Homo sapiens: one gene and its partners. The protein of the gene in region 7 interacts with the protein of the main gene of each other region in a biochemical or structural test. Each region holds a gene or a part of one and is shown on either strand. Other genes may lie near its edges. The genes, in order: ATCAY, MAP3K20, PEX11B, TM6SF1, FGF7, TMEM43 and POLI.

What was found.
Region 1: the proteins of POLI (region 7) and ATCAY form a complex in vitro, tested with the Homo sapiens proteins (one large-scale study listed by BioGRID).
Region 2: the proteins of POLI (region 7) and MAP3K20 form a complex in vitro, tested with the Homo sapiens proteins (one large-scale study listed by BioGRID).
Region 3: the proteins of POLI (region 7) and PEX11B form a complex in vitro, tested with the Homo sapiens proteins (one large-scale study listed by BioGRID).
Region 4: the proteins of POLI (region 7) and TM6SF1 form a complex in vitro, tested with the Homo sapiens proteins (one large-scale study listed by BioGRID).
Region 5: the proteins of POLI (region 7) and FGF7 form a complex in vitro, tested with the Homo sapiens proteins (one large-scale study listed by BioGRID).
Region 6: the proteins of POLI (region 7) and TMEM43 form a complex in vitro, tested with the Homo sapiens proteins (one large-scale study listed by BioGRID).

The regions. Positions count from the first base shown.
Region 1 is NC_000019.10:3,879,017-3,883,674, forward strand, and holds the start of ATCAY (caytaxin), read left to right. Parts: upstream 1-1,668; 5' UTR 1,669-1,992; intron 1,993-4,658.
Region 2 is NC_000002.12:173,264,096-173,268,055, forward strand, and holds the end of MAP3K20 (mitogen-activated protein kinase kinase kinase 20), read left to right. Parts: intron 1-1,954; coding exon 1,955-2,655; 3' UTR 2,656-3,920; downstream 3,921-3,960. UniProt on the Homo sapiens protein: Stress-activated component of a protein kinase signal transduction cascade that promotes programmed cell death in response to various stress, such as ribosomal stress, osmotic shock and ionizing radiation.
Region 3 is NC_000001.11:145,915,791-145,920,372, reverse strand, and holds the start of PEX11B (peroxisomal membrane protein 11B), read left to right. Parts: upstream 1-1,655; 5' UTR 1,656-1,684; coding exon 1,685-1,740; intron 1,741-1,843; exon of another isoform or gene 1,844-1,927; coding exon of another isoform or gene 1,928-1,941; exon of another isoform or gene 1,942-2,418; intron 2,419-2,556; coding exon 2,557-2,672; intron 2,673-3,354; coding exon 3,355-3,556; intron 3,557-4,582. UniProt on the Homo sapiens protein: Involved in peroxisomal proliferation. May regulate peroxisome division by recruiting the dynamin-related GTPase DNM1L to the peroxisomal membrane. Promotes membrane protrusion and elongation on the peroxisomal surface.
Region 4 is NC_000015.10:83,121,145-83,124,644, forward strand, and holds part of TM6SF1 (transmembrane 6 superfamily member 1), read left to right. Parts: intron 1-776; coding exon 777-859; intron 860-1,612; coding exon 1,613-1,734; exon of another isoform or gene 1,735-2,246; intron 2,247-3,500. UniProt on the Homo sapiens protein: May function as sterol isomerase.
Region 5 is NC_000015.10:49,482,242-49,485,741, forward strand, and holds part of FGF7 (fibroblast growth factor 7 precursor), read left to right. Parts: intron 1-909; coding exon 910-1,013; intron 1,014-2,068; coding exon 2,069-2,263; 3' UTR 2,264-3,500. UniProt on the Homo sapiens protein: Plays an important role in the regulation of embryonic development, cell proliferation and cell differentiation. Required for normal branching morphogenesis. Growth factor active on keratinocytes.
Region 6 is NC_000003.12:14,138,394-14,142,353, forward strand, and holds part of TMEM43 (transmembrane protein 43), read left to right. Parts: intron 1-786; coding exon 787-904; intron 905-3,199; coding exon 3,200-3,402; 3' UTR 3,403-3,960. UniProt on the Homo sapiens protein: May have an important role in maintaining nuclear envelope structure by organizing protein complexes at the inner nuclear membrane. Required for retaining emerin at the inner nuclear membrane.
Region 7 is NC_000018.10:54,286,325-54,290,284, forward strand, and holds part of POLI (DNA polymerase iota isoform a (long)), read left to right. Parts: intron 1-956; coding exon 957-1,087; intron 1,088-3,960. UniProt on the Homo sapiens protein: Error-prone DNA polymerase specifically involved in DNA repair. Plays an important role in translesion synthesis, where the normal high-fidelity DNA polymerases cannot proceed and DNA synthesis stalls. Favors Hoogsteen base-pairing in the active site.

The DNA of each region.
Region 1 (4,658 bases), on a different chromosome or scaffold from region 7:
TAGGAGCCTGTAGTCTCAACCACTGGAGAGAAAGAGGTGTAAGGATCACCTGAGCCCGGGAGTTCAAGACTGCAGCGAGCTGTGATTGTGCCATTGCACTCCAGCCTGGATGACAGGGAAAACTCCTGTTTCTTAAAAAAATAAGTAAATAAAATAAACATTAAAAACAGCAATAGCAAGAAATACATATAGGCCGAGCACAGTGATTCGCACCTCTAATCCCAGCACTTTGGGAGGCCAAGGTGGGCGGATCACCTGAAGTCAGGAGTTCGAGACCAGCCTGGCCAACATGTTGAAACCCCGCCTCTACTAAAAATACAAAAAAAAAATTAGCCAGGTGTGGTGGTGTGTGCCTGTAATCCCAGCTACTTGGGAGGCTGAGGGAGGAGAACCACTTGAACCTGGGAGTCGGAGGTTGCAGTGAGCCAAGATCGCACCACTGTACTCCAGCCTGGCAACAGAGCGAGACTCCACCTAAAAAAAAAAAAAAAAGAAAGAAAGAAAGAAAGAAAGAAAGAAAGAAAGAAAGAAAGAAAGAAAGAAAGAAAGAGAAAGAAACACATAGGGAGCTTTTCTTGTGCCCCAGCACTGTGTTTAGTGCTGTCTATGCATTATCTCATAATGTGGAAAAGCCATAGCGGCTCCATTTCACAGATGAGAAAAACTGAGGCCCGCAGGTGAGATCACTCATGCCCACTGGTCTGCCAGCTGGGGAGTGGCTGGGCTAGAGTTCAAACCCACTTCCAGTCCGACTGCACGGCCTGCACTCTCCACCCTACCATCTTCCACAGTCTCCTTGAATTCCTCCAGGGCGAGGCCACGCCAGCGCACAACTGCAGGGGGCGCCGTTCCCACAGCAGCCCTGCAAAGTGAGTGTGCCTGAGAAACTTCCGCCTCCCCTGCACCCAGCCCTGTTTAGGGCACGAGGCTGAATCAATGGTAAGTGACCATCTAATGGACCCACAACACGGTGACCTGGGGACAGTCATTTCTTTCTTTTTTTTTTTTTTTCTTTGAGACAGAGTCTCCCTCTGCCGCCCAGGCTGCAGTGCAGTGGCGCCATCTCGGCTCACTGCAACCTCCGCCTCCCAGGTTCAAGCGATTCTCCTGCCTCAGCCTCCCGAGTAGCTGGGATTACAGGCGCACGCCACCACGCCTGGCTAATTTTTGTATTTTCAGTAGAAACGGGGTTTCACCATGTTGGCCAGGCTGGTATCGAACTCCTGACTTCAGGTGATCCTCCCTCCTCGGCCTCCGAAAGTGCTGGGATTACAGGCGTGAGCCATGGCATCCGACCTGGGGACAGTCATTTCTTTGCCTGCACAGACTTTTTGGGGGATGCCACCCCTCACCCCTGCTCCCTTTGCAAGGAGAAGTGCCAAGAAGACCTTTCCCAACTCCCCCACCCCCCATTCTCTAAGGAATGAGGCCATCTTGCCATTTATTTATTTATTTGTCCGTTGTTTTGTTTTTAAATCTCTGATGCGCCATCAGAAAATTATTTCTGCCTCTGCCCCTGGCGTGGCTTTCGGAGATGCTTGTCTGTCAGCCAATGGGGAGGATCGGATTCTGGCAGGGGGCTGTGCTTTTCCGTCAGGCCGCCACCCCCCACCCCCTCCTCCCTGCACACAAAAGCAGCATAAATTAACCGTCTTCGGGAAGCCGAGCCTCTGCCAGCCCTGAGCTGGGAAGAAGCAGCTACCTCGGAGGCAGGGCGCGCAGGCGGGCGGCGATGAGAGGGGGCGCAGCCGCAGCCCCGCGCTGGGGAGCCCACCGCTAACCCTGCACCCCACCCACCCCTGCACAAAAGAGCTGGCGGGCGCTGGCCACGTCGCCCTGGGTGACCTTCCTCGGATGCAGAATCCGCCCCTGCGAGCATCCTCTTCCTCCTAGGCTCTGAAGGCCCGGGGAGCGTGAGCGATGCCCAGCTGCACCCGGGCAGGGCTCGCCTTTGTTTGCCAGTAAGGAGGAGAGGCTGTCTCAGCTGCAGAGGTGAGTGCGCGCATCTCCCCTTCTCCCAGGATAAACCGTCTCCCTGGAAGGTTTATCCGGCAGCCTTTGCCGCCTCTAAATCCCTTTCCAGCAGATGGGGCGGGTGGGAGCAGAGAGCCACGGTCTTGTGACTCCGTGAAGGCCCTCACATCCCTGTTCCCGGTACCAGGGAAAACCGTTCCCTGAGCTGCGCCCAGCAACACAGTTTACCTTCCGCGCGCACCGTTCCCCTCTAAGTGCACCATTTTCAGGACACGCTGAGAGCTCGGGCGGATGAAAACCTCAGCTTCTCTCTGGGACGCTGAAATAGACCCATCCTAGCCCTATGTATTTCCTATTTATAACGCTAGGAAGGCCACCAGCCGACGATTTCGGGAAAAAAAAAAAAAAAAAATCTAAGTGTGTCGATAAAGGCTGTCCTGTGGGGTGGGGAGGAAGGGGGTGGTTTATGGTTTAAGACACAGATGCCTCCTCCTTATTGGAACTCGTATGTGATTTGTTAATAATCAGACATCAGGGCTCAAATGAGCGCTTCACTCCCGTTCCTTGATGTCACTGTCTTCTTTTGGCCGTCCCCAAATGCGAAGCCAGGATCTGAGTGCAGGAGTGTCCGGGGCCCACTGAGGACCCACCCCACCCCATCCTTAGAAGACTGTGGAGTCAACGCCTGTGGCTGCAGCTGGCAGGGGGTGGGGGTCGGGGGCGGGGCTGGTGGGAGTGTTCCTGGGGGCTGAGGTCACACCCAGCTCAGTATAAGGAAGGGAGAGGCGAAGACCCCTTCCTCCGGAGAGCAAATGCGTTTCTACTGCCGAGGAGAACTTACCCTCGCGGGAAGGGCCTGGCTGGCTGCTGCCACCGCCCCCCCCCCGACCCCATAGCATCCAGGAGGGATTTTTTTTTTTTCCATGCTGCGTGTTACTGTCCCTCCTCCAAGCATGAATGACGACATTGAGGACAGAGAATCGAGTGAGAAACGCTCACCCTGTACGGGGGAGGGTCTAGTTTTAGCCGTCCCCTCCCCCCACTTCCTCATCTGGCTGAGGCTGCCTCTGGGTCCTTCCTTGCTAAGCCACAGTCCCCTGTCCCCGATGCAAACCCGATATCTATGCTGGGGGGCTGCAGGTAACCTACTCCACAGAGAGGCAGCCTGGATGCCATGAGAGTTGGGGGCCTTAGATGCTTCATGTATTTGGTTTTTTTGAGACAGGGTCTTGCTATCTTGCCCGGGCTGGTCTTAACCTCCTGTGCTCAGGCGATCCTCGCAAAGTGCTGGGATTACACGTGTGAGCCACTGCCCCCAGCCAGATGCTTTATCTTTTATTTTATTTTTTGAAGTAGGGTCTCTGTTGCTCAGGCTGGAAAGCAGTGGCATGATCATAGCTCACTGCAGTCTCGACCTCCTGGTCTCAAGCGATCCTCCAACTTCAGCCTCCTGAATAGCTGGGACTTCAGGCACCAGGCACCCATCACCATGTTTGGTTAATTTTTGTATTTTTTTTTTTTTAAGAGATGGGGACTTGCTATGTTGCCCAGGCTGGTCTTGACCTTCCAGGCTCAAGCGATCCTCCTATCTCAGCCTCCCAAAGTGCTGGGGATTACAGGTGTGAGCCACCGCACCAGCCAGATGCCTTATTTTATTTTATTTTATTTTCTGAAATAGAACCTCACTCTGTTGCTCAGGCTGGAATGTGGTGGCACAATCATACCTCACTGCAGCCTCCACCTCCTGGGCTCAGGCAATCCTCCCACCTCAGCCTCCTGAACAGCTGTGACTTCAGGCACCCACCAAATTTAATTAATTTTTGTTTTTGTTTTTGCTTTTCGTAGAGATGGTGTCTTGCTATGTTGCCCAGGCTGGTCTTGACCTTCTGGGCTCAATCCTCCCACCTCAGCCTCCTGAATAGCTAAGACCTCAGGCACCCACCATTGTGCTTGGTTAGTTTTTGTATTTTTTTTTTGAGAGATGGGGTCTTGCTGTGTTGCCCAGGCTGGTCTCGAACCCCTGGTCTCAAGTGATCTGCCCAAAGTGCTGGAATTCCAGGCATGCACCACTGCACCCAGCCCCTAGACGCTTTAAAAAGTGGATCTAGTGGCCCGGCAGGGTGGCTCACACCTGTAATCCCAGCACTTTGGGAGGCAGGTGGATCATGAGGTCAGGAGTTCGAGACCAGCCTGGCCAATATAGTGAAACCCCATCTCTACTAAAAATACAAAAATTAGCTGGACGTGGTGGCACGCGCCTGTAGTCCAAGCTACTCAAGAGGTGGAGGTTGCAGTGAGCCGAGATCGCACCACTGCACTCTAGCCTGGGCGACAGAGCGAGACTCTGTCTCAAAAAAAAAATGACAACAAAAAAAGTGGATCTAGCTACTCGGAAGCTGTTGAGAGACAGACAGAGGTAATGGAAGGACAGAGTGTACAATACTCTATAATGACTGCCGGACACAGGCCTGAAATCCTTTCGCAAACACGGGAATGCACACAGAAATGACTATTGCCTTTAAGACAAGGTTTCTCCACCTTGGATCTATGGATATTTGGGACCCAGTCATTCTTGGTCATGGGCGGCCATCCTGGGCACTGTAAGGTGCTGAGCAGCACCCCTGGCCTGCCCAGGGGGCACTCCTTCCCCTCAGTTGTGACAAAAGTGCCTCTAGACAATGCCA
Region 2 (3,960 bases), on a different chromosome or scaffold from region 7:
TCACCTGTGAACTTGCTAGAAATCCAGATGCTCAGGCCCAAACCCAGACTTACTGAATCAGAACTCTGGGGATAGGAGCTGCAGTCTGCATTTTAAGGAGCCTTCCCAGTGATTAAGAACAACTCTAAAGTCCTTAAGCCACTGATTTAAACTGTAATAAAATTTATTATCTTCCATAACAAGAAGCCCAGAGGTAGGGCAGGCTCCAGGTGCAGTAAGATAAGCTGGCTCAACCATATTCAGAGAGTGGAATGAACCTTCCCTTCTTTCTGCCCTGCCATGCTCAATAGGCTGCCTTTGCCCTCGGCTCCTCTCCTGTTTACAGTCATCACACAAAGATATCACAACGCCCAGAGGAAATAACGGGTTAGGTCCCTACCTGTTCTTATATATAGGAGTAAGGAAAACTTTTCTAGAAACCCCCAACAGACTACCCGTCAGCAATTCTGCTTTGGCCAGAATGGAGCAACCTGTCCGTTCCTAAACATAGCATGAGCACATCTGACTTAAACTAATTAAAGTCGATCCCTGGAGCCAGAATGCAGTCAACTCTCCCGATCACGTGGCTACATGGAGGGGGATGGAGACTGAGCAAAATCAGGGTTCTATTGGAAGGCAAAATTCCAGAGAAGTCAAGGCGAGGAAAGAAGGCATTGTGATTCTGTATGCTACTGCTCATGTGACGTATGTAAAGTAGTCAAAGTCACAGAAACAGGAAGTAGAAGACAGTTAACAAGTGGCGGTCAGGGGGCAGGGGAGAAGGGAGGGGAAATGGAGAAAGAGGAAGGTAGAGATTAGTGGGTATAGAGTTTCAGTGTTGCAAGATGAAACAGTTACAGAGATCCGCGCAACAATGTGAATATACTAACACTACTGAACTAGAGGCTTAAAAATGGCTAAGATGGAAAATGTGGTTTTTACCACAATAAAATACACACATACACACAACAACAACAACAGAAGAAGGCATTGTGATGGACTGAAGCCTGGGAGGAGTCTCTGGAATTGTCTGGACAAGTCACTCACTTCAGAGCTCGGGGTCACCTGTGCCCAGGCAGTGAGGAGACAGAGACATGTGCATGCTCTGATACTCTCCACGCGCACTATCTGCGTGAGCAGGGGGTGGAGTAGCTGAGGAAGCTGAGGCTGGGAGGACCACCCAGGAACTCTAGAACATGGGTAACGTTGTTCAGGCTCGGGGGAAAACAGAAAAGATCTCAGGTGTGAGGAACTTGCTTATTCACTGAAATATAGCTTACTAAATGGTTCTTGTTAATTCACCATTTTCTTTTATCTTAACTTCTTCCTATCTGCCAATGCAGCTTCATTTTTTTATGCTGAAAATACTTCTTATTCCCGAGCCTCAGGATCTCTCCTGTGGACACGTGAACGGTCTTTCTTCCAAACAATCTCTAGCTGTCTCAACCTTCGGAACCTCATTTCTCTTATCTGCATTTAGGGTCCTTGAGGTTTTAAAAATGCAGGTGGCAAAACAAACCTTTTGTTTACTAAACATGCCCCTGCCACCTGAACATACTTTCTAGAAGTAACAACACAACTATGTAGGAAGAAGATGGGATTTAGATGCAGAAGGACTTGGTATTATTGACTGAGTGATCTTGGGCAAGTCATTTGACCTCTCAAGCTTCCTCATTTATAGAATAAAACTATTAGTGTTTACCTAAGAAGATTACTGAGAGGATTAAATGAGATAGTGTAAGTAAAGCCCATGGAACAATGCCAAGCACATAGCATATATTGAATAAGTGTAAATGTCCTTATTTTTTAAAGTATTTGTAATAAAAGAAACGTCCTTATACATAGCCTAGAATTTCTATGAATGGTAAAGCTTAGAGCATCCCAAACAGCCCTGAATTATCCTAAGACAGGCGTATGAATTAGACATGCAGCTTTAGTGTGGCTTAAAAGATGCTCATTTCCATTTCTCCCGCAGGTGCTGATTGCCAGTGGTTAGATACTCTGAGGATGCGGCAGATTGCATCCAACACTTCTTTACAGCGTTCCCAGAGCAATCCTATTCTGGGGTCACCGTTCTTCTCACACTTTGATGGCCAGGATTCCTACGCTGCTGCTGTGAGACGGCCCCAGGTGCCCATTAAGTATCAACAGATTACACCTGTGAACCAGTCCAGAAGCTCGTCTCCTACTCAGTATGGACTGACCAAAAACTTCTCTTCCCTACATCTCAACTCTAGGGACAGTGGCTTTTCCAGTGGCAATACTGACACCTCTTCAGAGAGGGGTCGATACTCAGACAGAAGCAGGAACAAATATGGACGTGGTAGTATATCACTCAATTCTTCTCCTAGAGGAAGATACAGTGGAAAGAGTCAGCATTCCACTCCTTCAAGAGGAAGATACCCTGGAAAGTTCTACAGGGTTTCTCAGTCAGCACTCAATCCTCACCAGTCGCCTGACTTCAAGAGAAGCCCCAGGGACCTCCACCAACCCAACACCATACCAGGGATGCCTTTGCACCCTGAGACTGACTCAAGAGCCAGTGAAGAGGACAGCAAAGTCAGCGAAGGGGGCTGGACAAAAGTGGAATACCGGAAAAAGCCCCACAGGCCATCTCCCGCCAAAACCAATAAAGAGAGAGCCAGAGGGGACCACCGTGGATGGAGAAACTTTTGATGAATTGAACTACATAGCTTTTCTAAGCAGGTTAAAAAAAAAAAAAAAAAGAAATGTAATGGTTTTTGATAATATGATCCCTTCAGATTGAATTAACGAAAAGACAACACTTCCAGTTTTTGGATTGGGAAATACCTTCTAATTGAGACTATAGCCAAACCAGGGCCAAAATTATGGATATTGGTCACCCAGTGATCATAACTAGGCTTGAAAATCACTACACATATTTTCTGCCTTGAGTGAACATTTTTAGAGGAAAGGTTATGCCATCTTTTTACCCTAACCACTGATATTCTGGTTAGCAGGGCCAGGACAAGGGGAAGGAAAATGAGGTCAACAAAAAAATCAAATTTTTAGGAAAAGATAAGATGAATGTTACTGATTTTTCCTTTTGGCTGAGGCTGCAATATGGCCTGGCAAGGCACTGTTACTGATCTTGTCTTTAACATTTTGATATTTTGTTCATCATAATTTTTGCATTTATTTTTTTAAATATTGCATTAAAATATCATTTAGCTTGATTATCGAGTTTTTTGGTTTGAGGTTTTTTGTTGCTTCTTTTTTCTTTTCTTTCTTTCCCCCTCTTTTTTTTGGATGTCCCCTTAAATTTTGTGCCCAAGGCAGGTACCTCACTCATCTCATCCTTGGCTCAGCCCTGCTGGTTAGTATTTAGTATTTATTTTAGTAAGATATTTGTGTCTGTATGATGGTCAGAGTTGAACTGATCTGGCTTGTCATTTTTCAGTAATAAAAAAAGTTACTGAATTTAATGTTGAATATGATGCATATCTCATTCATTACGATTTATCAGAAACCAAAGATTTAAATTGCCTAGATTTGTGGTTCTTTCTCTTCCTAAGTTCCCAGCGACTGCTTTCAAATACTATTTTCTAAATTTCACCAAAGGAGCAAAGAGGATAAAACAACACTCCATAAAGGCCTCTTGGGATGTCAGAAATCTAAAATCTAAAAGAAAACAGACACAGAGCAAGACAATAACATCACAAGCTAAAAGCCAGAGAAATTTAAAATTACCAACATCCTTGTTGGAGTAAGACAGTAAATATCAGCCTTGCAGCAAGACAGCTCTGAGCAGCTGTGGGCAAAGAGGTAAACCAGTGGGGGTGCAAGGAGACTGTCTGCAGCTTAGGGCAGAAATGGTGGGATCCAACTTGTGAAATGCTTCATGTTTTACAAACCAAAAAGTCAGGTAGCAACAAACTTATTGTATGTCAAATCAATAAATGTTACTTTCAATATTCTGAGATTCTGTTCAGCATTCACTAACCCTGTTTAGCATTCACT
Region 3 (4,582 bases), on a different chromosome or scaffold from region 7:
GGGATGGCTGGGTCAAATGGTATTTCTAGTTCTAGATCCCTGAGGAATCGAAAAGGCAGGCTCTTAACAGATGTAAATTAACATACAAATAATCTTACAGAAGAGAGAGCAGAGGTAGCAGGGTGCGGTGGCTCACGCCTGTAATCTCAGCACTTTGGGAGGCTGAGACAGGTGGATCATGAGGTCAAGAGATGGAGACCACCTGGCCAACATGGTGAAACCTCGCCTCTACTAAAAATACAAAAATTAGCCGGGCATGGTAGCGGGCGCCTGTAGCTTCTCGGGAGGCTGAGGGAGGAGAATTGCTTGAACCCGGGAGGCGGAGGTTGCAGTGAGCCGGCAAAAAAAAAAAAAAGCAAGCAGAGGCTTACTCCCTGAGAATTAATGGCTAATGGCCCCCAAGCGCACCCTTTAACTCATGCTATGGACCCAAATCCCTGTCCTGCCCGGTCCTGAGTCCTAGGTCACTCACCTGGGGGAAGGCAAGCAGGAAACTAAGTCCCCAGGCTGCCCCCAGAAGTTTCCTTACACCTGAACGGGATCCAAGCGGGTTGAGTACTGCTGCCTGGCGGTCCAATCCAATGACCACAGGCAGGAAAGCTGCAGAATACGTGGCCATTAGTTTCAGGAACATCAGTGTCCGACATGCGATGTCCACAGCCAGCCATTGAACAGTGATATTCCAGGTGGCATCTAGGGGCATAACCACAAAAGTGACTAGTAAGTCGGCGGCTGCTAAATGGATGAAGAGTCTCCTGACCGGAGAGGGGCGGAGCTGGCTGGGTTCCCGCCGTGTCACTGACCACAGGACTGCCAGGTTCCCTCCAGCCGAAGAAACAAACAGCACAATGGTCACTCCCACTCGGACCTTGGCTGCTGCCGAGAAGGTGGGCAGCTCTGAGCCCTCCACCTCCACTCCTGATCCAGCCCAGACCTCCTCCCCCGCTGCTGACCCCAAGGGGTGCCGTTGCCTGCAGACATGGTGGCCTGGAGAGAAACTGAGGAGGATGAAGTGTGGGTATGAAGCGGTTAGCTTTGGCCACTGATTCTTCGCCCTCCTTTTCAGGATCTGGAGCTGATTATTGCGAATTTCGTTCACTAAAGCCTCTGCTTCTGGAGACTCTCCATCTGTTCTGGAGGAGGTCACTTGTTCAACTGTCAAGGTTCTGCAGGGAACGAAGATCTGGTACCAATCACGCTCCTTTTTCCTTGGACAGACCAGCCTGGGCTTCAGGCCTCTACTGACCTAGACCTCTTTAGCCCCTACAGCCCTGGATTCAGTCGGGGCCTGCGTGCATGTGTATTTGTGAGGTTCTGCCAGGCGCACACCTATGCCGGCGGCCTCCAAGACGTGGAGATCACTGCGGCGCTTTCTCGCCCCGCCCCGGCCCCTGCAGGCCCCGCCCTTGGTCATGAATATTTAAAGAAGAAGGTGCCGCTGGAGGCGTGCTAGGGAGTAGGGGTCGTCTGATAAGGGGAAGCTGTGACGCAGACACGCACAGTAATACACAGATGGAGGCTCAAAAGACACGAGTTTCGCGTCCTGAAATTCCGCTTCCAGGGCCAAGCTTTCTTTTCTGATACTGTTTGTCCCTCGCGAGGCACCGTTGGGTCGCGCAGTAGGCGTGACTAGGGGCGGGAAGTGGGGCGGGAGCAGGGCCGCGGAGCCTGGGCTGCGGCTGTCATGGACGCCTGGGTCCGCTTCAGTGCTCAGAGCCAAGCCCGGGAGCGGCTGTGTAGGTGCGGCCCGAATAGGAATGGGGGTGGGGCGGGGGAGGGATGGACAGAGGAAGACTCTAGTGAGGCGAAGTCAGTTTAGGCTACAGGGGGGTCAAGAAGGGTCAACTCCGGCTACGGGGGCCCGAACGGACCGTGAGGCGCAGATTTGAGCCGCTGTTGAGATGATTCCTTTCCGTTCGCGGAAGAGATGGGGAAACTGAGGCATGAGTGGGCCAGCGGGGAGGCCGCTCAGGGTTGCTGTGTCCACATAAGACCGACAGTGTCCTCACTGGGCGGTGATGGAATGAGGAGCATTCGCCCCACGGTGGATAGCCCCAGACTCTGCCCCCAGAGCTGAGGAGGCACTCCCAGTTTCCGTGTCCCCACACCGTGCTGCCATTCGGGAACTCCCCTGCCTCCGCCCTGGCGTTTGGTCTCCATTCAGCTAGAGGGCCTTGAAATCTCTCAGTTCACCTATTCTGAGGAATAAAATGCCCTCCAACTGTCTGCCTCCCCCTCATCGATCACGTACATGCTCACGCTGATGTGCTTGTGATGGACCCCTGCGGCCTGCACTGGCCCCTTCAGGCCTCATCATTGTCAAATCTCTAATTTGCTCAACATTCAATAGTGCTCCCCACCCCTTTCTAGACTCTTTTTTCTCCTTATGCCTTTCCCTTCCTCTGGCCTGGAGAAATGGTGAGATATGGGCATGGAGGAGGAAGGGGAGTGTTCTCAAACTGGGAAAGGGGGAAGTCTGTCTGTGCCTTTTGGAAGATAGTTTTGAGCGGAAGGTTAGGGAGGTCTCCACCTTACCTTGCCTGCCCTCTCCTCTAGGGCCGCCCAGTATGCTTGCTCTCTTCTTGGCCATGCGCTGCAGAGGCATGGAGCCAGTCCTGAGTTACAGAAACAGATTCGACAACTGGAGAGCCACCTGAGCCTTGGAAGAAAGCGTAAGTAACTCTGTCTTTCCTTTTATCCCCCAACCTTTCCTCCATCCCCAGCTCACCTTCCTTTGTCCCTCCTTCCTGTACCCTCTCTGTTCTTCTTTCTCATTTGGCTCTGCACTTACCCTCTGCATGAGTCCAGTTGAGATAAGAGAGCAGGGGTATGGAAGTAATTAGGCGGACTGGAGAGAATGGGTCAAGTTTGAGAAAACTAAACTGGCACAAAAATTAAATTTGAAATTGAAAAATGGACTGTTTCTGCTCTTTATTTTTTATTTTTTTGAGACAGAGTCTCTCGTCCAGGTCAGAGTGCAGTGGCGCAATCTTGGCTCACTGCAACCTCTGCCTCCCAGGTTCAAGCAATTCTCCTGTCTCAGCCTCCTGAGCAGCTGGGACTACAGGTGCCCACCACCATGCCGGGCTAATTTTTGTATTTTTAGTAGAGATGGGGTTACACCATGTTGGCCAGGCTGGTCTCAAACTCGTGACCTCAGGTGATCCACCCACCTCGGCCTCCCAAAATGTTGGGATTACAGGCTTGAGCCACCATGCCCAGCCTGTTTCTGCTCTTTAAAAAAATTGTCATTATTATTGCTCAACTTTTGCCCTCTTGCTTTCTCTGTTTCTGTTTCTTGTTATCTGCCTCTCCACTTACAAATCCTTGCTTTCCCTTTCTAATCTCCACAAGTTCTACGCCTGGGTAACTCAGCAGATGCCCTTGAGTCAGCCAAAAGAGCTGTTCACCTATCAGATGTTGTCCTGAGATTCTGCATCACTGTTAGTCACCTCAATCGAGCCTTGTACTTCGCCTGTGACAATGTCCTGTGGGCTGGAAAGTCTGGACTGGCTCCCCGTGTGGATCAGGAGAAGTGGGCCCAGCGTTCATTCAGGTTTGATATCCTGTTCTCCTTTAAGATTTTTTTTTGTAGCCTCTATATTGCATAGCTTGTCTTATATGAGGGAAAGATATCTTAGGATCTTTCCAGAGTATATAAGTCTTGATCAGTCACTTGGCTTCCAATCACTTAGATCTTAAACTATCGGAGAATATCAAATGGGGAGAGATGGAAGACAGATGCTCTTCCATAATGAATGACTAATATTGTGCAAGGTAAGATATTATATCACTTTAATTGTGCTTCTATACCACAGGTTATTCCCCCTCACTACCTGCTTACTCATTCATTCCAAAGATATTTATTAGATGCTTACTGTGGCGCAGGGGATAAAGCAAAGAGCTAAACAGATAATGTGCCTGCTCCCATGAAGCTTCTAGTTTAGTGAGGGAGTTAGATACTACAATGAATAACTTCTCATATATATTTGTGGAAAAGTATGCGGTATTATGAAAGAATATCACAAGGGGAGCTAATTTAGATTGGAAAATCAGGAAAAAACTCTTTGAGAAAGTAATATTTTAGCTCAGACCTGATGTCTGAGTAGGAGGAGTTAGACAAAGCCAACAGTAGCAGAAAAGACATTTCCAAACAGAGAAAATTGCACATTCTAAGTAAGGCTTTGAACTAAGAAAGACTTAAGGGAATTAGAGAAATAGAAAGAAAGCCAGTGTGATTGACAGTATTGAGTCCATCAGTTCAAATTTGAGAGATAGACAGGCACCAGATCTTTCATACAGGGCCTTTTAGGCAATGTTAATGTTTGTTTTATTTTATCCTACAATGGGACATTATTGAAGGATTCTGAGCAGGGAAATGACATGATTCAAATTGTGTTTAAAGGACATCTCTTTTTGAGATGTTGAAAATGGATTGCAGGCCGGGCGCAGTGGCTCACGCCTGTAATCCCAGCACTTTGGGAGGCCGAGGTTGGGGGGATCACGAGGTCAGGACTTCAAGACCAGCCTGGCCAACGTGGCAAAACCCCGTCTCTACTAAAATTACAAAAATTAGCCAGGT
Region 4 (3,500 bases), on a different chromosome or scaffold from region 7:
GCTGTAACCTCTGCCTCCCAGGTTCAACCATTTCTCCTGCCTCAGCCTCCCAAGTAGCTGGAATTACAGGTGCATGCCACCATGCCCAGCTAATTTTTTTTTTTTTTTTGTACTTTTAGTAGAGATGGCGTTTCACCATGTTGGCCAGGCTGGTTTCAAACTCCTGACCTCAAGTGATCTGCCCACCTCAGCTTCTCAAAGTGCTGGGATTACAGGCATGAGCCACCATGCTCGGCCTGAAGGAAGTTTTTGTCAGCATTGAAGATTTGGGGTATATGTCTAGCAGCTCCTTTGCAACATGGGGTACATGTCACTTGTCTTCACCTTTGGGGCTTTGGCCAAAATTCTGTGACCCCAGAAAAAGTCCATTTAACATTATCATTGTAAGTATAACTCATACTTATAATGATTAAAAATATGGATCCAATTTCATTTCTTCTTTCAACTTTCTTTTTCCTTTCATGCTGTTGAGTTTCACACACAATAGGGAAATGCAGGAGTCCTGTGGCAGGGATGATCATGTTGTAGTTTAACAGAAGACATAGCAGGCGTAATTTCCTATTTAAAAGGACACGAAGAAGGTTCTATAGTATATCACATGGCAATGAAGTTACATAACCAGGGCTCCTTGTGTTTGATTTATTCCTCTCAATTCAATATGTTTTGATTGATGTACTTTACTAGTTTGAATACAAAATAATATTGAAGATCATTTTTTGCTTAGTATTCTAAGACAAACATACCAAGTCAAGATTTTTTTGTTGTTGTTGTTACAGGGAAACTTATAGAACCATTGGCCTATATTGGGTTGGATCTATTATTATGAGTGTTGTTGTTTTTGTGCCAGGAAACATTGTAGGTAAGAAACTTTATCTTAAAGTTCACTTTCCTTTTCTAAAACAATGGGGCTTGTTTTTAAATAGAGAAGCTCTTTTAGTTATAATAGAACCAAGTGATTCCAAGCTTACTAAAAACCTGTTTTGCAGAATAATTCCTTTTTCTCACCTTTAAAAAAAGTACTTTTTAAGAAGTGCTTTGAGCAATTTTCAGATGTGTGCATTGAACAATTTGGCAGTCAAGTTATCAGGGATTCCTGTTTTTTTAGAAGGATCTTGAGGGAGTGAGTATGGTGTTTATGGCTATATTTAGTGTGCAAATATGTTAACTCCTGACACACTATGAGAACTCCAAAAATGTACTTGGAAATTACAAGTACATTATTAATGTATGCAGGAAATCAGGATATATAGGTAGATAGATAGATAGATAGATATAGATATAGGGAGATAGATATATACAAACATATATAGATACCTATCTAGATGTATTTTTTGAGACAGGATCTCACTCTGTTGCCCAGGCTGGCTTGCAGTGGTACAGCCATAGCTCACTGCAGCCTTGATCTCCTGGGCTCAAGCAGATTACTGTAGATAGGACATGCCTGTTAATACACATCTAGTATTTTAAATTGACCTTTTTAATTTGGCCTCATTAAAAATATTGTCTGGCCCATAGCAAAATTTTAGATGACCTGAGATGGGGAGGTATCCTAAATATTACTTGTGTTAGATATGCTTTTGGTAACTTCTTTCTCTTTCTCTCTTTTAAATAGGGAAGTATGGAACACGAATTTGCCCTGCTTTTTTCTTAAGCATACCATATACTTGTCTTCCTGTCTGGGCTGGTTTCAGAATCTATAATCAGCCATCAGAAAATTATAATTACCCCTCAAAGGTGATTTTATTAAGCTTTGATGTACCCTGTTCTCAAACTCATAGGGTTCTTTCGCATCCACTGGCCACTGAATTGAACCATGCCTCTGTGGACTGGAGCATTTGGGGCATCCAAACAGTGCGACTGTTTTGATTATGTAGCATTAGCTTACGTATTAATTAATGTAGGCAAGAAGGTCTGTTTCTGTCTGAATACATCTGCTTCTGTTGGCAAGGCCATACTTTGGGGAGCTTCCTGTGCCAGTGGTCACACTGGCTCTAACTATCAGATTCTGCATTAGTGTGTCAAGTGAAGTCCATAGTGTGTGGTTCATCTAGGATTGTTAATGGCCTGGACGTTGAACACCTGGGTTCCTCTGTGACACCTATGCATTTACTACCCCAAGAGGACACTGGAGGGATACTGCTCCTCAAGGTAGTCTACACAGCCATACAATCTTGACTCCAGAGATCCAGGCCCATAGAGACTGGCTACAGGACATCTGAGACACCTCCCTTCCATTCACAGCCAAGGTAGTCAAGGTGAAACAGCACTGGCCTGGCAGATACTCTGTTAAGGCCTTCATTTCTAAGCTAGTTTCTCTCTGTTTCTTTTACTTTTCTAGGTATTAGATCATTTAGCAAGATCTTTTAAGCAAAACTGATATATGAAAATATGAATTACTAGAGATAATCAGAATACGACTATTCATTTTACAAAAGATTTTCAGTATAATTCATTAAAATACATTTTAATTGACAAATACTTCATTTGTAAACATTTAGACACCTTCTATGTAAACTCAGGCTGGCACACTGACAGCTGGTACTAACTTCCCTCTGAGGAAAGAGGTGGCTGTTAAAAAGAAAAAGCAAATAGTCAGTCCACCCTTAGTCCCAGCTCCACTGCTTTTAAAGGTTCCATGTCAGTGTGTCAACAGAGTAGGTATGCCATGAGGCATGCAGAATTACTTATCATTATTTTTAATGTGAAAACACAGTGACAGCCAGGGCCAAGCAGGCATTGTCATACAGTGCTGACAGAAACATAAATTCAGAATTGCTCTGCAAAGCAATTTGGCAATGTTATCAACCTTAATAATTCTGGAACCCAATAATTCTGCTCCTAGAGCCCTATCTTCAGGAAATCATCACACAGATACCACCAAAGATTTACAAAGTTGTTCATCATTACATTAAGTATAACAGTGAAAAATGCCTAAATATCCAACAGTGGGAGAATGGCTAAAGTGTGGTGTTTCCATATGGTATTCAGTTTGAGAAAATTTTTAAACATGTGGGAAAGTGCTTATAATATAGGCAGATGTTGAGAGCAAAAAGAACAAATACAGAATTGTTTATATACAGGAATAATTTTATATATAAAATTGTTCCTAATTTTGTGAAAAATGTAGATATATGTGTGTGTATATATGTATGTTGTGTGTATGTAACTATATCTATTTACATGTATTACTGGAAAAGTATACCAACGGTTAATAGTGGTGTGGCAGGTTTATGGTTTACCTTTAAAATTTATTATCATTAAAATGTCATTTCAAGAAAAAAAGTGGACTCATAGAGCTACAAGAGCCCTTCGAGAGATCATTTAGCCCAAATTCTTCATTTCACAGATAAGGAAATTGAGACTTGAGGAAGGAAATGATTTTCCTAAAGTTCCATGGCCAGTGATTTATGATATAAATTGTGCATCTTCAAAATTCTCTTATCCATCATCATGACATTTAATGTTTCAGATTTCAGATTCTTCTTTGGCACTTTGGGCCT
Region 5 (3,500 bases), on a different chromosome or scaffold from region 7:
TTACTTTATTTAGTGTGTCATTAAAACACAGGATTTAAGGAAGATATATATAATAAAGGAAAATAGTAAGTTACCATTCTTGTGTAAACACATTTTGTAAATACTATTTCAACAAAGATTTAAAAGTTAATTACAAAGGTATAAAGTTATGAAGTATTATATAAACAGGATTCATAATTTTGTTTTAAATGGTCTTTTAATGTATCAAAATACTATCAGTTTAAAACAATCTTTTTTTTAAGGCAGTAGGCTCTGTTTACCATCATTTACACTTGCTTTAATTAGAATTTTCTTCACTTTCAGTATATTCAAGAGCTATTCTGTTGGCAATAATTTTTAAGATAAAGTTTATCCAAATAGAAAAGTAATTATATAATGATTAAGAGCCAGAATGTCTGGGTTCAAATTCCAGTTCTGCTACTTATCAGGTATAAGAATTTGGGCAAATTTCTTAGTTTCTCTGTGCTTCAGTTTCCTGATCTGTAAAACTGGGATAACAAGACTACCTGTCTCAATCTGTGGTTATGAGTAAATGAGTTAATACATAAGAGCAATGCAATAATCCTTGGCATGTGGTATGAGTTCAATAAACATTAGCTATTATTATTATAGTAAATTAGAAATTTAATTCTAGAGAATAAAAAGCTGAACTCAAATATGTAACTATTTATTTGATACAGACACATTTTCTACAAAATAAAAAACCATCGGTTTGCACTTCCCTTATATAATGACTATCTTGGTGTTTGTGTGTATCTGTTGTGGGTCAGGGGTCTTGGGCTGAGTAAATAATCACATTAAAAATTTTAAAAACTTCCGATTAAAACAGAAATAAGAACAAATGGCCATTCGTGGATCATTTGCAAAACTGAACGAATATTTGACATGTCTTTCTGTGATTCCTTGCAGATATCATGGAAATCAGGACAGTGGCAGTTGGAATTGTGGCAATCAAAGGGGTGGAAAGTGAATTCTATCTTGCAATGAACAAGGAAGGAAAACTCTATGCAAAGGTATTGATAATTGATAGCTTAGGCTTAATTTTTAAAACTCATTTTTGTCAAAATATCTCACCTTTCTGAAAAGTAAAAATGGAATTAATTTATCTCCAACTGTATAATTTAATGATTTTATTAAAACACTTTATACTCAAACGTTAAGAAAAAATGTTTTCTGTGTGACTTTGGACAAATGGCTTGTTCTTTGGATTTTGGTTTCTTCATCTGTAAAATGAGTTGAATTAACTGACCTCTAAGGATCCTTCCAGCTCTAAAATTCCATGTGCATTTTAGATATTTAAAATCCAAAATTTCCATTTGCCAGTATTAAAGCTCTTTTTGTTAAAGTTCACCCAATTTGCACATTGCTGACATGAAAATTCTTGGGAAAAAATCTTGAAATGTTTAGTTCATTCATCAACATCAATCTCACAATCATGGGCATTGAAATGTAATTATTCACATTGTCCCCACTTCACTACAATGCAAAATATGTAACAGTTCATCCCACCATAATAAAATATAATTGGCTTTCCTTTGTATTCCCACAGCTAGGCATAATGATACAGGTTTAATTGAATGAACAAATGGTTGCATGGATGAACAAACAAATTAACCTTTTATCTTCCATTACCATTGAAGACAATGTAGAAGTAAATAAAGTTGTGAAACAAGTCTCTCACCTGAGGGAGGCAGAGGTTCTGCTAATTATACCAAATTTCCAGTGGTTAAAGAATGAGTGATGTGGGAATAAGTAATATGAGGCCTGTTACTTAGGGGGAAATAGGTCCTAATTTAAAGAATAGTTGACATGAACTTCCAAAAAGCTACACATATTTCATAACTAGCTGTGTATTATGTGGTGTTTTTATTTCAAATTTAAGATACCTTTTTATGCAAATATACTACATAAGTATAGCTAATAAACCACATTAGGCCTGCTCAATCTGAGGGTTAAAAAAAGTTGTGTATGTTTCAATTCTACCAAATATTACCTGCTTACTCTTCGTTTAATTGAGCCTCTCTAAAAATCATTTGGATAATGTCTGTTTGTTTGTTTGTTTTAACAGAAAGAATGCAATGAAGATTGTAACTTCAAAGAACTAATTCTGGAAAACCATTACAACACATATGCATCAGCTAAATGGACACACAACGGAGGGGAAATGTTTGTTGCCTTAAATCAAAAGGGGATTCCTGTAAGAGGAAAAAAAACGAAGAAAGAACAAAAAACAGCCCACTTTCTTCCTATGGCAATAACTTAATTGCATATGGTATATAAAGAACCAGTTCCAGCAGGGAGATTTCTTTAAGTGGACTGTTTTCTTTCTTCTCAAAATTTTCTTTCCTTTTATTTTTTAGTAATCAAGAAAGGCTGGAAAACTACTGAAAAACTGATCAAGCTGGACTTGTGCATTTATGTTTGTTTTAAGACACTGCATTAAAGAAAGATTTGAAAAGTATACACAAAAATCAGATTTAGTAACTAAAGGTTGTAAAAAATTGTAAAACTGGTTGTACAATCATGATGTTAGTAACAGTAATTTTTTTCTTAAATTAATTTACCCTTAAGAGTATGTTAGATTTGATTATCTGATAATGATTATTTAAATATTCCTATCTGCTTATAAAATGGCTGCTATAATAATAATAATACAGATGTTGTTATATAAGGTATATCAGACCTACAGGCTTCTGGCAGGATTTGTCAGATAATCAAGCCACACTAACTATGGAAAATGAGCAGCATTTTAAATGCTTTCTAGTGAAAAATTATAATCTACTTAAACTCTAATCAGAAAAAAAATTCTCAAAAAAACTATTATGAAAGTCAATAAAATAGATAATTTAACAAAAGTACAGGATTAGAACATGCTTATACCTATAAATAAGAACAAAATTTCTAATGCTGCTCAAGTGGAAAGGGTATTGCTAAAAGGATGTTTCCAAAAATCTTGTATATAAGATAGCAACAGTGATTGATGATAATACTGTACTTCATCTTACTTGCCACAAAATAACATTTTATAAATCCTCAAAGTAAAATTGAGAAATCTTTAAGTTTTTTTCAAGTAACATAATCTATCTTTGTATAATTCATATTTGGGAATATGGCTTTTAATAATGTTCTTCCCACAAATAATCATGCTTTTTTCCTATGGTTACAGCATTAAACTCTATTTTAAGTTGTTTTTGAACTTTATTGTTTTGTTATTTAAGTTTATGTTATTTATAAAAAAAAAACCTTAATAAGCTGTATCTGTTTCATATGCTTTTAATTTTAAAGGAATAACAAAACTGTCTGGCTCAACGGCAAGTTTCCCTCCCTTTTCTGACTGACACTAAGTCTAGCACACAGCACTTGGGCCAGCAAATCCTGGAAGGCAGACAAAAATAAGAGCCTGAAGCAATGCTTACAATAGATGTCTCACACAGAACAATACAAATATGTAAAAAATCTTTCACCACATATTCTTGCCAATTAATTGGATCATATAAGTA
Region 6 (3,960 bases), on a different chromosome or scaffold from region 7:
GGGCAGACAGTGGTAAGAGACTCGGGAATATGTGGCCTGGACTGGATGGGGTGGTAGGGGAGGAGCGAGCCATGTCTTTCCCATAGATGTGAGTGGGTGGGTGGGTGTGCCATGTGCTGAGATGGAGAAGGCGCCAGTGTCAGCACTAGACAGGCTGAGATGTCAAGTGGAAATGTCAAGGAGGTGGTGGAGGTGGTGGGAGCTGCAGGGCTGTGAGGCCCGGGAGAGGGCCAGAGCTGCAGCTTTAAATTGGAGGGTCACGGCATGTGGAGGCCAAGGAAGCAGATGGGATGTCCGGGGAGAGAGTATGGACTGAAGCAGCTAAAGAATTGCAGCATCTAATGGACAGGAAGAGGGGCAGCGACAGCGATGGAGCCTGAGAAGGAGGGTGCAGTGTCCCCAAGCCATGTGGAGAGGTTCTGAGATTAAACAGATCACACACATAGCGCAGAGCATGCTGCCCAGCAGACATCCTCCAACCTGCTCAGGGGTGGTGGGCAGGGTCCTGCTCATTCCAGGTGAGACCGTGGGCTGAGGGCTCCAGGTGCTGGCAGGCTCTGAGCTGAGGAAGGCCCGTACGTTCCACAGAGATCTCATGCCTTGCCCTGTGCTCTGCCAGATGGGCAGAAGGACTTAGCCCTATAGGAGGCTTGCCCCCACTCCGTCTGGCCTGTTCAGAAATGGCCAACAGCTCCCGAGTTGGTACAGCCCCCTCAGGACCTGCCCTGCCGACTGGGTACGCCACTGGCCCTCAGCATCCTGACCTGCCCCCACCTTGTCCTGCAGGAGGTGTTTCATAGAGAACTAAGGAGCAACTCCATGAAGACCTGGGGCCTGCGGGCAGCTGGCTGGATGGCCATGTTCATGGGCCTCAACCTTATGACACGGATCCTCTACACCTTGGGTAGGTGTTGGGGTGGGTCACTGCCCTCCCTCCTGCACCCTGAAAGGGCCTCCTCTGCCTGTCGCATCATCTCAGCCCTTCCAGCCTGATGGGATGGCCCTTGTGCAGATACCAGGCATTTGGCTCATCTCTGTGTCCCCGCTCCATAGCCTTGGGATGAGGGAGCAGAGGAAGGCAGGCTTGAGGGCAGGAGCTGCCAGGGGCCAGGCTGGGTGGGGCCAACTCTGGGGCACTGGTCTCACTCCACAGCCTGAAGGTTCGTCCATCTGCTGGCTCGATCATTTGCTCATTCCTTTGATCCACAATTGAATACCACATGGGAGCCTGCCAGACCTGCATTTGAAATCTGTCACGTCCAAGCTCTGGATGCTTGGCCGTTCCCTTCCCATCTCAGCTTCAGTCACCTCACCCCTTACATGCAGAGTTTTATGAAATGTGGCAAATAGGAAACACCCAAAACTCTCATGCTTCCTTCCTCACTCCAAAACCTGGGCTAGATTTGGGCAGCCAGCAAGTCTGGAGCATGAAGGAGAGTTCTGGGCCACTCCTTGACCTGAGGTTGGCACCAGTGAGCCCAGTAGGAGACCTGTGGCCCAGCGTGGTTCGGGATCTGAGTGCCCAGGGTGACTAAGTGCGTTCTGGGCCCAGGAGGATGGGGTTCCTCGGAGGACTCTCCATCCAAGCCTTTCCCTGGTGTGTGTCCCTTCCAGTCACATGATTGCATCAGTCTTCTCTGGGTGCCAACAGAAACCTCTTCCCCACTCAGCATGCACAAGTCAGAAGAGGTCTGGCTGCACATCTTGGGCTGTCTGAGCTGGGGGGACCACCTCCTTTGTTTACAGTTGGGAAAACAGGCCCGGGAAGGGAAGGACTCTCCCTGAGCCTTTCTTTGGACAGCTGAATTGTGCTCAGAAAGACCAGTGACGTGGTGGGCACATTAGCGAGAGATGAGCATTTAAACGGAATCCTCTTTCTTGCCTGTGTGACCCTGGGGAGACCAGTTCCCTTCTGGAGCCTTGGTTTCCTCGTGTCTGTCTCAGTGGGCCCTTCTTTGGATCTCTGATGTCTGTGATCCCAATTCACTCTACGTCTGGAATGCGCCAGACTCAGGACAGACTTAGAGTGTGGAGGGACCCCCAGGGTGGGTGGGGAGAGTTGGGAGCGCAGCAGGGAAGCACACAGTTCCCCATGCGTTTGATAAATACCAACGTGTGTAAGACTCCACAGCTAGAGACAGACAAGACTTAGAGCAACAGCTCAGAGCCCAGGCTCTGGGCCCATACGGTCTTGAGTTCAAATCCTGGTTCTGGCACTTTCTAACAGGAGGACTGGTGGTGAGTTTCTTAATTCCCTGAGTCTCAGTGACCCTGTGGGTAAAATGGAGTTAAGAAGAGTACCTACCTTACAGGGTGGGCATGAGTGCTTCATGAGATGGTGCACATGGTGCCTAACACAGGCAACGTTCAGAAACATGAACTTTGCTTATTATAAGGGCTGAGTAGCAGTGCTGTATGGGAACAGATCAGGATGAGGCCAGGTAGTGGCTTGCAGGGTGTGCTGCAGGCATGGTGGGGCACCAGGGCTTGCTCTGCAAACCCAGTGATTCCAGACCATTGGTGGCCTCCTGGGAACTGAGCGAAGATTCCCTGAGTGGACATCAGCTATGGAATGCCAACCTGGAGAGGTCACACAAGGCAAGAATAGGGTAATTCCTCATGAATTTAGCTGGATTCTGGGCTTTATCCTATTGGACCAATAGTCTGTGAGATTCTTGAGGAGAGGCCAATGCTTAGGCTAATTTATTTCCTCTAGCACCTGCTGGTTCAGTGCTGGGCACATAAATCATTAGTAACAGCCTGCTGCATGAATGAACCAACACCTCTAGGAATGGCTGAGAGGCCCAAATAGGCACCTTCAGGAGGCTCCACCCACAGCCTCTTGTATGAGTGTGCAGGACCCAGGTTATTTCTAGCATTACAGGCAAATGTCTTTATACTGGCCTCAGACTACTCTCCACATAAAGTATTAAAGTTTACAAAGCACTGCTACATCCTCTCCCCTGGATCAGGGTAGAGTGGGTGGCTTAGGCAATGTGCCCAACCACGCAGCTCATAGCAGAGGCTCCTGTGCTCCCTTAGCTTTCAGAACGAAGCTCCTTGCCTTCCACCCACTGATCCTCTCCCCTCCTCATGCATGTAGCAACATGGGCCCATCCTCATCTAGGGACAGGAGAGATCTGCTGAGCTGGTGAGGTGTAGAGCAGGTGGCACCTCATCACCTTTCTCCTTTCCACAGTGGACTGGTTTCCTGTTTTCCGAGACCTGGTCAACATTGGCCTGAAAGCCTTTGCCTTCTGTGTGGCCACCTCGCTGACCCTGCTGACCGTGGCGGCTGGCTGGCTCTTCTACCGACCCCTGTGGGCCCTCCTCATTGCCGGCCTGGCCCTTGTGCCCATCCTTGTTGCTCGGACACGGGTGCCAGCCAAAAAGTTGGAGTGAAAAGACCCTGGCACCCGCCCGACACCTGCGTGAGCCCTAGGATCCAGGTCCTCTCTCACCTCTGACCCAGCTCCATGCCAGAGCAGGAGCCCCGGTCAATTTTGGACTCTGCACTCCCTCTCCTCTTCAGGGGCCAGACTTGGCAGCATGTGCACCAGGTTGGTGTTCACCAGCTCATGTCTTCCCCACATCTCTTCTTGCCAGTAAGCAGCTTTGGTGGGCAGCAGCAGCTCATGAATGGCAAGCTGACAGCTTCTCCTGCTGTTTCCTTCCTCTCTTGGACTGAGTGGGTACGGCCAGCCACTCAGCCCATTGGCAGCTGACAACGCAGACACGCTCTACGGAGGCCTGCTGATAAAGGGCTCAGCCTTGCCGTGTGCTGCTTCTCATCACTGCACACAAGTGCCATGCTTTGCCACCACCACCAAGCACATCTGTGATCCTGAAGGGCGGCCGTTAGTCATTACTGCTGAGTCCTGGGTCACCAGCAGACACACTGGGCATGGACCCCTCAAAGCAGGCACACCCAAAACACAAGTCTGTGGCTAGAACCTGATG
Region 7 (3,960 bases):
ATTTGTCATATCACTAAAACCTTTGTTTCAACACCAAAACCAAGACATTTGCATGAAACTCTTCTAAAAAATGCATGTACTCATATTGTATATTAATTATATACTAAATATAGTATATGCTCTTTTAAGATATTGCTCTAATAAGCTATCATATAATGGTAATAGTGATTACTCTTTAACAAAAGTAATGTCATTTTGTAAAAAAAAATCTTTTTTTTGGTAATCTCGTAAGAAAAAAGTTTGAAAAAAGTTCTTTTGTTATTTTTCACTTATTTGCTTTTGTCAGTGAATGATTCAGTTTCTTAAATTTCCTGCTGATTTTAATTTGTTGCCTTTTGGTTAGGTGTGTTGGCTTACGTCTGTAATCCCAGCATTTTGGGAGGCTGAGGTGGGGGGATCACCTGAGGTCAGGAGTTCGAGACCAGCCTGGCCAACATGGCAAAACCACCTCTCTACTAAAAATACAAAAATTAGCCAGGTGTGGTCACACATGCCTGTAGTCCCAGCTACTCAGGAGGCTGAGGCAGGAGAATTGCTTGAACCTGGGAGGTGAAGGTTGCAGTGAGCTGAGATTGTGCCACCACATTCCAGCCTGGGCAACAGAGTGAGACTCCATCTCAAAAAAAAAAAAATTGGTTGCTTTTAGTTTTGTTTTGGATCTGTATTATAAAACAGTTTGTTATGATTGTATCTTATATCTCTTCTATTTCTGACAGCACTCAATTCTGAGTGAGGCCTGAGAGCTTGACATCTAAACATTCAGAGTTTTAGTGCATAGACTTTGTGATGATTATTTGGATACTCAGGGACCTTTATTGCTTACTATTTTGTTATCTGCTATATGTATAATTGTCATATTTAACAAAATCTGGCACCTTTAGATAAATGAGATGTTACATAATTTAAAAAGGTAATACTTTTCTAATTCCTTATTTCCACTTTCTCTTTATTTTTAGAGTATGCCAAGATGGAAGGAAGCCTCATACAGTGAGATTAATAATCCGTCGGTATTCCTCTGAGAAGCACTATGGTCGTGAGAGTCGTCAGTGCCCTATTCCTTCACATGTAATTCAGAAATTAGGGACAGGTATGGACTAGTTTTCCAACAGTTTCATTAGCAGGTTGAACTCTTAAATAAGCCAACTTTGAATGAGAAATATGCTCCAAAAATGGAGGGTCTTCACAGGGAATTAGCAAGCAATTAAATGCTTTTATTCTATCAGGAATTTTCACTGGAAAACTTTGTTGTTTGTTTATTTATTTATTTATTTTTTGAGACAGGGTCTTGCTCTGCACCAAGGCTGAAGTGCAGTGGTGCTGTGATAGCTCACTGCAGCCTTTGTCTCCCAGGCTCAAACAATTCTTCTGCCCCAGCCTCCCGAGTAGCTGGGACAGTAGGTGCATGCTACCAGACCTGGCTAACTTTTTTGATATTTAGGATAGACAGGGTCTCAAACTCCTGAGCTCAAGCAATCCTTCTGCCTCAGCCTCCGAAAGTGCTGGGATTATGGGCATGAGCTACTGCACCTGGCCTTGTTTTTAAATAGATAATTAAGTAAAGAGTCATTTAAGAATGTTTTCCAAGTTCAAAGAGAACAAAACTGTGATAACTGTATAGCATGAGATAACTTCTTTATGGGCATTTAGATTGTTTCCATTTTGAAGAACATTTAAATGCAAGTCATTGGATGGGCATATGCATATGTTTTCATTTATCTTGGGTAGATTTCAAAGAGTGGAATTGCTGGATCATATGGTAACATGAACTGTTTAAGAAGCTGCCAACTTTTTTCCAAAGTTTGTGTATTAATTTACATTTTCATCAACAATATTTGAAGGTTCCAGTTTTTCATATTTTCGCCAATATTTGTATTATCAGTCTCTTTGATTATAGTTGTTCTAGCGGTATATAGTAGTGTGGTTTTTCTTTTATGGATAGTGTTTTTGGTGTTATATGTAAAAATTCTTTGCCTAACTCAAAGGTCACAGATATTTTTTTCTGTTTTCTGTTAGAAGTTTTATAGTTTTTAAGCTTTATGTTTAGGTCCATTTTGAGTTAATTTTTTTATGTGTGGTATACGGTAAGGGTCTTCATTCTTTGCTTTGCATGTGGGTATCCAGTTGTTCCTGCATCATTTGTTGAAGACTATTCTCCACCCACTGAATTACCATGACATCTTTGTCAAAAATTAATTGACCATAAATATAAGAGTTTATTTCCTGACTTTCTTGTTTCATTGGTCTATATGTTTATCCTTAACACTGATTCCACCCTGTGGTGGTCTCTGCTGCTCTGTTTATTTTTCTGTAGTCTTTTTTTTTTTCCGTTTTTTCTTACAAAGTGGATAATTTGTATTGAGCTGCCTGTAAGTTCTCTGATTCATCTGTCATCTCATAACCGCTGTTGCCCCTGTAGTGATTTGTTGGTTTTGGTTACTGTACTTTTTAACTCTAGAATTTCTGTTTGTCTTTTGTTTATATGTTTGGTTTTGTTTCTTTATCAAGATTCTCCTTTTTTTGTAGTCATTATATTTTACTTTAATTCTTTAAACATGGTTGTCTTTAATTCTTTGGACATATCTATAATAATGAATTTGAAGTCTTTGCTAAGTTCACCTCAAAGTCAATTTATGTTAACTGCTTTTCCTCCCAAATATGTATCACACTTTCCTGTTTCTTTGCATGTTTTGAACTATTTTATTGAAAACTGAACCTCATAGATAATGTATTGTAGCAACTCTGGATTTACAATTTTTTCTTGTAGGGTTTTTTCTTTTTTGTTTCCTGTACTTCTTTTTAGGTAACTTGTCTGAACGTAATCTGCAGAATTTACCTCCCCTGTGCTGTGTAGCCACTGATTTCTCTGCTCAAGTGTTTTTTTTTTTTTTTTCCATTCAAATTTTTATTTTAATACTGGCTTCTGGGAAGTTGCCCATGTCTGTATAGTTTCATGGTTAGCCAGTGATTGGCAAAGGTTTTGCTCAAACACTAGAGTCTGGAAGCCGTCTACCTCTGCCAGTGGATAAGTGTATGGGTTGGAGAGGGCTTAAAAAATTTAGGCCATTTTCCCATACTGCCCAAAGTAATTTATAGGTTCAATGCCATCCCCATCAAGCTACCACTAACTTTCTTCACAGAATTGGAAAAAAATACTTTAAATTGCATATGGAACCAAAAATGAGCCCCTATAGCCAAGACAATCCTAAATAAAAAGAACAAAGCTGGAGGCATCATGCTACCTGACTTCAAACTATACTACAAGGCTACAGTAACCAAAACAGCATGGTACTGGCAGAAAAACAGAGATACAGAACAATGGAACAGAACAGAGGCCTCAGAAATAACACCACACATCTACAACCATCTGATCTTTGACAGACCTGACAGAAACAAGCAATGGGGAAAGGATTCCCTATATAATAAATGGTGCTAGGAAAACTGGCTAGCCATATGTAGAAAGTTGAAACTGGATCCCTTCCTTACACCTTATACAAAAGTTAACTCAAGATGGATTAAAGACTTAAATGTTAGAACTGAAATCATAAAAACCCTAGAAGAAAACCTAGGCAATAGCATTTAGTACATAAGCATGGGCAAAGACCTCATGACTAAAACACCAAAAGCAATGGCAACAAAAGCCAAAATTGACAGATGGGACCTAATTAAACTAAAGAGCTTCTGCACAGCAAAAGAAACTATCAGCAGAGTGAACAGGCAACCTACAGAATGGGAGAAAATTTTTGCAATCTACCCATCTGACAAAGGGCTAATATCCAGAATCTACAAAGAAGTTAAACAAATTTACAAGAAAAAAGCAAACAACCCCATCAAAAAGTGGGCAAAGGATATGAACAGACACTTTTCAAAAGAAGACATTTATGCTGCCAACAGACATATGAAAAAATGCTCATCATTGCTGGTCATTAGAGAAATACAAATCAAAACCACAATGAGATACCA